Linked DNA regions of Homo sapiens. The gene in region 1 interacts genetically with each later gene. Each region holds a gene or a part of one and is shown on either strand. Other genes may lie near its edges.

Region 1 (3,811 bases):
TTTTTCCTTTCTTTTTTTATATTTATAAGTAAATGTATCTGAGTATCTATCTATGTACATAAATTCCAAAAATTGGGCTTATATTGATGATATATTAGTTTGTATACTGCTTTTACTTTAAAGGCTAAGCATTTTTCATATCAAATATTCTACAAAAACATTTGTAACAGATACCTGTTACTCCTTGATTGGGGTGTTCCATAATTTATTGGGCATTAAGTTTACATCTGATTTTCCCCTCTTAGAGATAAAGCAGTGATGAATATTTATGGAAGGAACGCTTTCTTTGTATTTCTGATGGGTCCTTCAGGCTATATTCCAGTCATTGAAGTTGCAAATCAAAGGAGATGCATATGGTTATGGGCCTTGATATCTCATGCCTAATAGCTTATGTTTGTATTATTTATTTTTAAATATTTTTATTACTGTGGGAATTGCTCCATTCCAACCTAATAGCTAATTCTTTTTTCTTTTCTTTTTTTTTTTTTTTTGAGACGGAGTCTCGCTCTGTTGCCCAGGCTGGAGTGCAATGGCACAATCTCGACTCACTGCAACCTCCGCCTCCCGTGTTCAAGCGATTCTCCTGCCTCAGCCTCCTGAGTAGCTGGGATTACAGGCGCACGCCACCACACCTGGCTAATTTTTGTATTTTAGTAGAGACAAGGTTTCACCATGTTGGTCAGGCTGGTCTCAAACTCCTGACCTCATTCGTGATCCACCCACCTTGGCCTCCCAAAGTGCTGGGATTACAGGTGTGAGCCACCGTGCCCGGTGAAAAGCCACCGCGCCTGGTGAAAATCTGAAAAGATTCTTACTAGAAGCTTTTCCTCTCCGCTCCGCCCCCTGAAGTCTCTCCCTCTTCTCAGGCCTACAGGCCTTGGCGTATAACGAAGCCCAGCAAATGACCGCATAGGCCTGATGGGGGCACGTCCCTCAGTATTTCTCATGGGACAGAGCAGAGGCTGGGTCTTTACCCTCTCTTGTCACTTCTCAGGCTTAAAATGGGAAATTAGTAGGAAACACTGATGGCCTCAAGCATGAGGGAGAGGCCAAAAGGTGGCCCGCCCAGCAGACCCTAAATCCCTGGCAGGCCCTGATCCCCAGCAGGTCCTGAACTTCCAGCAGGCCCTGAGTCCCCGGCAGGTCCTGAACCTCTGGCAGGCCCCGAGCCCCCAACAGACCCCAATCCCCCAGCAGGCTCCGAGCCACCAGCAGACCCTCAAGCCCCAACAGGCCCTGAGCCCCCAGCAGGTCCCACACTCACAGTTTTCACTTCAGTGTATGCCTGCAGCCCGTACTCGCCCAACTCCCGGCCACTCCCCGACATCTTGTAGCCACCAAAGGGTGACTGGGCTCCAAACACATCATAGCAGTTGACCCTGTAATTTGAAACGAGATTGCAGAAATCACTCTTGGGGGTTATGGGTTACACTCCCAGGACCCCCTGTATTGCCCCAAAGTCTTTATTTTATTTTTAACTTAAAAAAAAATTTTTTTTTTTGAGATAGAATCTTTCTCTGTTGCCCAGGCTGGAGTTGCCATGGCATGATCTTGGCTCGTTGCAACCTCCACATCTGGGGTTCAAGAGATTCTCCTGCCTCAGCTTCCTGAGTAGCTGGACTACCAGCACGTGCAACCACGCCTGGCAATAAATTTTTTTTTAAGAGACAGGGTCTGATTATGTTACCCAGGCTGGTCTCCAACTCCTGGTCTTCAGTGATCCTCCTGCCTCAGCCTCCCAAGTAGTTAAGATAACAAGTATGTGCCACTATGCCTGGCTAATTTTTTTATCTTTTATTTTTTGTAGAGATGGGGTCTCACTATGTTGCCCAGGCTGGTCTCGAACTCCTGGCCTCAAGTAATTCTCCTGCCTCAGGCTCCCAAAGCACTGGGATTACTGGTATGAGCCACTGCACCTGGATGGCTTTCTTTTCTTTTCTTTCATTTTTTTTTTTTGCAATTTAAAAAAATTATTAAATTTTATTTGAATTTGAAATTTACCATTTATTTATTTATTTTTATTTATTATTATTATTTTTTGAGATTATTTTTTGAGATGGAGTTTCACTCTGTTGCCCAGGCTGGAGTGCAGTGGTGAGATCTCAGCTTACTGCAACCTCCGCCTCCCAGGTTCAAGCGAATCTCCAGCCTCCCGAGTAGCTGGGATTACAGGTGCATGCTACCATGCCCAGCTAATTTTTCTATTTTTAGTAGAGACAGGGTTTCACCATGTTGGTCAGGCTGGTCTCAAACTCTTGACTTCGTGATATGCCTGCCTTGGCCTCCCAAAATGCTGGGATTACAGGTGTGAGCCACCACGCTTGGCCTATTTTTAATTTTCTTTTTTTTTTTTTTTTTGAGACAGAGTCTCGCTCCGTCGCCCTGGCTGGAGTGCAGTGGTGCGATCTCGGCTCACCGCAAGCTCCGCCTCCCAGGTTCACGCCATTCTCCTGCCTCAGCCTCCCGAGTAGCTGGGACTACAGGTGCCCGCCACCACACCCGGCTAAATTTTTGTATTTTTAGTAGAAACGGGGTTTCACTGTGTTAGCCAGGATGGTCTTGATCTTCTGACCTCGTGATCCGCCCGCCTTGGCCTCCCAAAGTGCTGGGATTACAGGTGTGAACCACAGCGCCCTGCCCTTTTTCTTTTCTTTTTTTGAGACAGAGTCTCACTCTGTTGCCAAGCTGGAGTGCAGTGGTGCGATCTCGGCTCACTGCAACTTCTGCCTCTAAAGTTCAAGTGATTCTCCTGCCTCAGCCTCCTGAGTAGCTGGGATTACAGGTGCCCACCACTGCGCCCGGCTAATTTTTTTTTTTTTTTTTTTTGAGACAGAGTCTTGCTCTGTCACCCAGGCTGGAGTGCAATGGCACGATCTCAACTCACTGTAACCTCTGCCTCCCGGGTTCAAGCGATTCTCCTGCCTCATCCTCCCAAGTAGCTGGGATTACAGGTGCATGCCACCACACCCGTCTAATTTGTGTATTTTTAGTAGAAACAGGGTTTCACCATGTTGGTCAGGCTGGTCTTGAACTCCTGACATCATGTTCCACCTACTTCGGACTCCCAAAGTGCTGGGATTACAGGTGTGAACCACCACGGCCTTACAGGTGTGAGCCACCAGGCCCAGGCCTAATTTTTGTATTTTTAGTAGAGACGGGGTTTCACCACATTGGCCAAGATGGTCTCCATCTCCTGATCTCGTGATCCGTCTACCTTGGCCTCCCAAAGTGCTGGGATTACAGGGGTGAGCCACTGCACCCAGCCTAAAATTCACCATTTTAAAGTGTACAATCACTGGTTGACAGCATATTCACAGTGTTGTGTGACCATCACCACTGTCTAATTGCAGAACATTTCTATCACACTGAAAGAAGCCCTGTGCCCAGGAGGCAGGCACTCTCCATTCCTCCCTCCCCCAGCCCCTGGCAACCACTAACATACTTTCTATCTCTATGGATTCGCCTATTCTAGATATTTATAATACTGTAAATGGAATCACACAGCATGTGGCCTTTTGTGCCTGGGTTCTTTTTTTTTTTTTTTGGAGTCTCACTCTATCGCTCAGGCTGGAGCGCAGTGGCATGATCTCCACTCACTGCAATCTCCGCCTCCCAGGTTCAAGCGATTCTCCTGCCTCAGCCTCCCGAGTAGCTGGGACTACAGGCACCTGCCACCACAGCCAGCTAAGTTTTGTGTTTTTAGTAGAGATAAGGTTTCACCATGTTGGCCAGGCTGGTCTCAAACTCTTGACCTCAAGTGACCTACCCACCTCGGCTTCCCAAAGTGCTGGGATTACAGGCATGAGCCACC
Region 2 (3,811 bases), on another chromosome or scaffold:
GAGCGAGACTGTCTTAAAAAAAAAAAAGAGAAGTGGGGGAAGGCCCACCCAGGAGCTGCTCTGCCAGGCCACAGCCATGTCTAGGGTGGGCTGGACATGGCAGCCGCTCCCCCTGCACAGGGTGGAATTTCCTTACTTGCCTTTGGTCAGGGGTTTACTCCCAAACGTCCCATCTTTTCTTCTGCGTCTTTTCTACTTCATCACTTCTCCCTCCCAGGATGATGTCTATAAACTAAGCACTGACAGCTCACAGCACTGCTGCCCCAGCTGCAGGGATGGGTCCCAGCCTCTCTTGCCTGCTTCTTGGCTACAGGACGGACTCCACTGGCCCCCGGTGAGTGGCCCCTGCTCTCTGCAAGGCCCTGCCATAGGTCCCTCCTCCAAGCCCAGCCAGTGTCTGCAGGGAAGCCAGCAGCCAGGCAGTGGTCAAGGATCTGAGGTCACCTGTCTGAGCTGGGTGCCCAGCAGGCCTTGGCCAGGTGGAGCCCCTGTGCCCCTAGTGAGGGCCGTCTTCCCCTCAGGGGCAAGGGGAAACCAACACAGCTATCTCACCAGGGCAGCAGCCTGGAGAGCAGGTCGCATCCTTCTCAGGGCGGTGGTCTCCTGGGGCAGCTGGTCAGGGGCCCACAGCCCAGAGGAGGTCCTTGCCACCCGCCTGGGGCTTCTCTTCCCCACTCCGTCTTCATGGGCAAGGTTGACAGATGGTGTACAGGCGCCCAGTTACATCTGAGTTTCAGATCATGAAGAAAGTTGATCTGAATATGGGCATCCTCATTCTAGAACACGCTTCAAAGCTGCCTGAGATTCAGATGTAACTGGGTGTCGCAGCCTGCCGCCCTGCCTGCCTGGCCCACAGCCACTCCTGGCCAGGATTCTGTTTGGCCAAACTGCCGTCAGGCTCCTGAGCCTCCTCCTAGGCCCATCTGTGCACGTCCTCATGAAATCCAGTTTTGGCAATCCCTGCTGAGATTGTAGCAGGACCCCTGCTCTCCGTATCCAGTCGCCCTCAGTAGCTGACTGGTCCATCCTCCACAGTCCCCAGAGGCCGTCTGATCCCCAAGGCACACCTTCAGCAAGGGTCCTGGCAGGATGCTTTAGCCAGAATTCCCTCCCCTGCCAGTTCCTCTCAGTCACTCTCCATCCTCTGACCCCACCTGCTCCTCGGGCGTAAACCCCCATGACCCATGCTGTGTTCAGAGCTGAGCCCCAACTCTCCCTGCCCTGCTGTGAGACCCCATTGCCGTGGTGGCTACACCTGCCCCAATGGTCCTGAATAGCTTGCCTTGGGGGTGTCATGGGGCTTCTCCCACACTCACCACATCGGCCACGTGCTCGATGAAGATCTGGCTGCCAAATCGGAGCTTCTGAAGCAGCTCTCCTGGAACGTCAGTGCGCAGCCGCGGCTGCTGGGCCATGAGCTGCTGCAGGCGCTTGTGCGGGAAGGCGTCTTCCGTGCAGATGTAGACGGCTCCTGGGAAGCAAGAGTGCCTGATGTGCCCAGGGGACTCCAGACGGGCCTGTGACTGCCACACAAATCAAGTGCAGATGTCTCCCGCCATTTCTAACTCTCTGCCCCTCACAGGTTCTTTGCCCCTCGCCTGGGGAGGGAGGAGGCTGGTGCTTTTTCTCACCCTCCCACTGGCAGCCACCTCCGGGGCCAGGTGACCCCTCAGGAGGAATATGGGCTGGGTCTCCACTTCTGACACCCAGGCAAGGACTTCCCCTGTCCTGGGCCCTGGGCTGGAATGGCCACAGATGGGAGGCCTCTCCTGCTCCACCCTGCCCCTCCTTCCCCCTGTGAACCTCCGTTCCCCACTGCAGGGCAGGGAGCAAGTGGCAGCATCAGGGCAACGCCTTCTGGAAATGGCCCCTGAGCCCCGACACATGGCCACCCTCAAGGCCCCCACTGAGCAAGCGTTTCCTCTCTTCAAAGCTCCTGCAATCTGGGCTCCATGGTGAAATTCAAAAAGCCAGCTTGAAAAGACACGTGTTGGTGAGGATGTGTAGGAGGCAGACCCCTGACCCCTGTGCACTGCCGCTAGGAATGTAAAATGGTGCAGCTCGGAAAACAATCGGTACTTCCTTAAAAAGTTAAACAAATCACATGACTCAGCAGCCCCACTCCTAGGTAGATACCCAAGAGAAAGAACGTCCACCGTAGCACGTTTCATGACAGCCCGGGGGGAGACGGCCCAAAGGCCATCAACTGAGGAGTGGACGAATGAAGTGCGGCCCATCCTTACAGTGGGATGATCGAATCTTAAAAGGGAAGGCAGTTCTGACACCTGCTCCAGCACGGATGAACCTCGAAAACACAATGCCAATGCAGGAAGCCTGTCACGAGACCACGTGCTGTCCGGCTGCACTTGCATGGAGCTCCCAGGACAGGAAGAGTCACAGGTAGGGAAAGGGGAGGCAGGCTGCTGGGGGTGGGGGCTGACTGCTCATGGGTAGGGTTTCCTTTTGGGGTGAGGGAACTGTTCTGGAATTGGATAGTGGTGACGGGCACAGAACTTTGTGCTTCTATTAAAAGCCACTGAATTTATTTATTTTATTTTAATTTTTGAGAGACAAGAGACTCACTCTGTCGCCCAGGCTGGAGTGCAGTGGTGCGATCTCGGCTCACTGCAACCTCTGCCTCCCGGGTTCAAGTGATTCTCCTGCCTCAGCCTTCTGAGTAGCTGGGATTACAAGGCGTGCGCTACCACGCCCAGCTAATTTTTGTATTTTTAGTAGAGACTGGGTTTCACCATGTTGGTCAGGCTGCTCTCGAACTCCTGACTTCATGATCCGCCTGCCTCAGCCTCGGCCTCCCAAAGTGCTGGGATTACAGGCATGAGGTACTGCGCCTATCAGGCCGAACTGTACACTTTTAGAGGGAATTTTATGGCATGTAAATTACATCTCAATTTAAAAAACAGGAAGGCTTAGGGGGACTGATTTGAGTAATAATAAAACTCCAGTTTCCTGCAAAACAAAAACAAAAAGACAAGGCCGGCGAGCTCTCTAAGCACTGACTATGCCAGGAAGGCTGCCCAGCCAGGACCCCGTGGCCCACGGGGCGTCGTCCTGTTCCTGCAGTGGCACATGCAGTTGTGGGAGAGCCAGTGCCCCCACGCCGTGTCATGCAGCCTGTTTGTGAGTGTCCGCGTAACCTTTAATTCTGAGCTGATTTTGCTTTGACAGAATTTCAAACGTAAAGAAGAGTTGCAAAAATGGGTCAGGAACCCCCCGCCCCATTCTGTGTCAGAACTAAGCTTCTGAGAAGCATCTGGCCCGCTTGAGGCCAGGAACGTATAAATACTGCCTTGGGAGGCCACATCCCTTTTGTGGCTGGTTCCCTTCCCCACCAGTGTCCCCAGCAGTGACTGTGCCCCTAGTCAGGAGCCACAGGAAGGTCGGGGCCCTGGGCTTCCTCCGTCCTGTTGGCTGGAGAGAGGCTGGGCTGGAAGGCTCGGAAGCAGGTGGAACCGGTCAAGCAGCGTGTTTTTGTTGGGGTGACGTTATGTAGGGGCTGCACAGTCATGGGGACATCGTGAAGCTGGCAGGAGGGTGGCTGTGGACAGCCCAGCGGTGGGCGGGGCCCCAGCAGGCCTGGGAGAGCCTCACGCGGCTTAAGCACGGGAGTCGGAATCACTTCAGAGCCCGCCTGCCGCTTTCTTTTCAAAATTCGGGCCTTTAGATTGGATCCAGGAAAGGAAGTCATTTCCCCAGGAAAGCACATCTGACCCCTAACCTTGCATGTGGTCACGGTGGCCGTGGGGCCCCCTCCCTTCCCCTGGCCCGCAAGGCTGGACTGTGCTGTCATCCC

What was found.
Region 2: changes in ALDH2 (region 1) and XRCC3 are lethal when combined (synthetic lethality), as found in Homo sapiens cells (one large-scale study listed by BioGRID).

What each region holds. Positions count from the first base shown.
Region 1 is NC_000012.12:111,801,427-111,805,237, reverse strand, and holds part of ALDH2 (aldehyde dehydrogenase, mitochondrial isoform 1 precursor), read right to left. Parts: intron 1,380-3,811; coding exon 1,265-1,379; intron 1-1,264. UniProt on the Homo sapiens protein: Required for clearance of cellular formaldehyde, a cytotoxic and carcinogenic metabolite that induces DNA damage.
Region 2 is NC_000014.9:103,701,857-103,705,667, forward strand, and holds part of XRCC3 (DNA repair protein XRCC3), read right to left. Parts: intron 1,472-3,811; coding exon 1,317-1,471; intron 1-1,316. UniProt on the Homo sapiens protein: Involved in the homologous recombination repair (HRR) pathway of double-stranded DNA, thought to repair chromosomal fragmentation, translocations and deletions. Part of the RAD51 paralog protein complex CX3 which acts in the BRCA1-BRCA2-dependent HR pathway.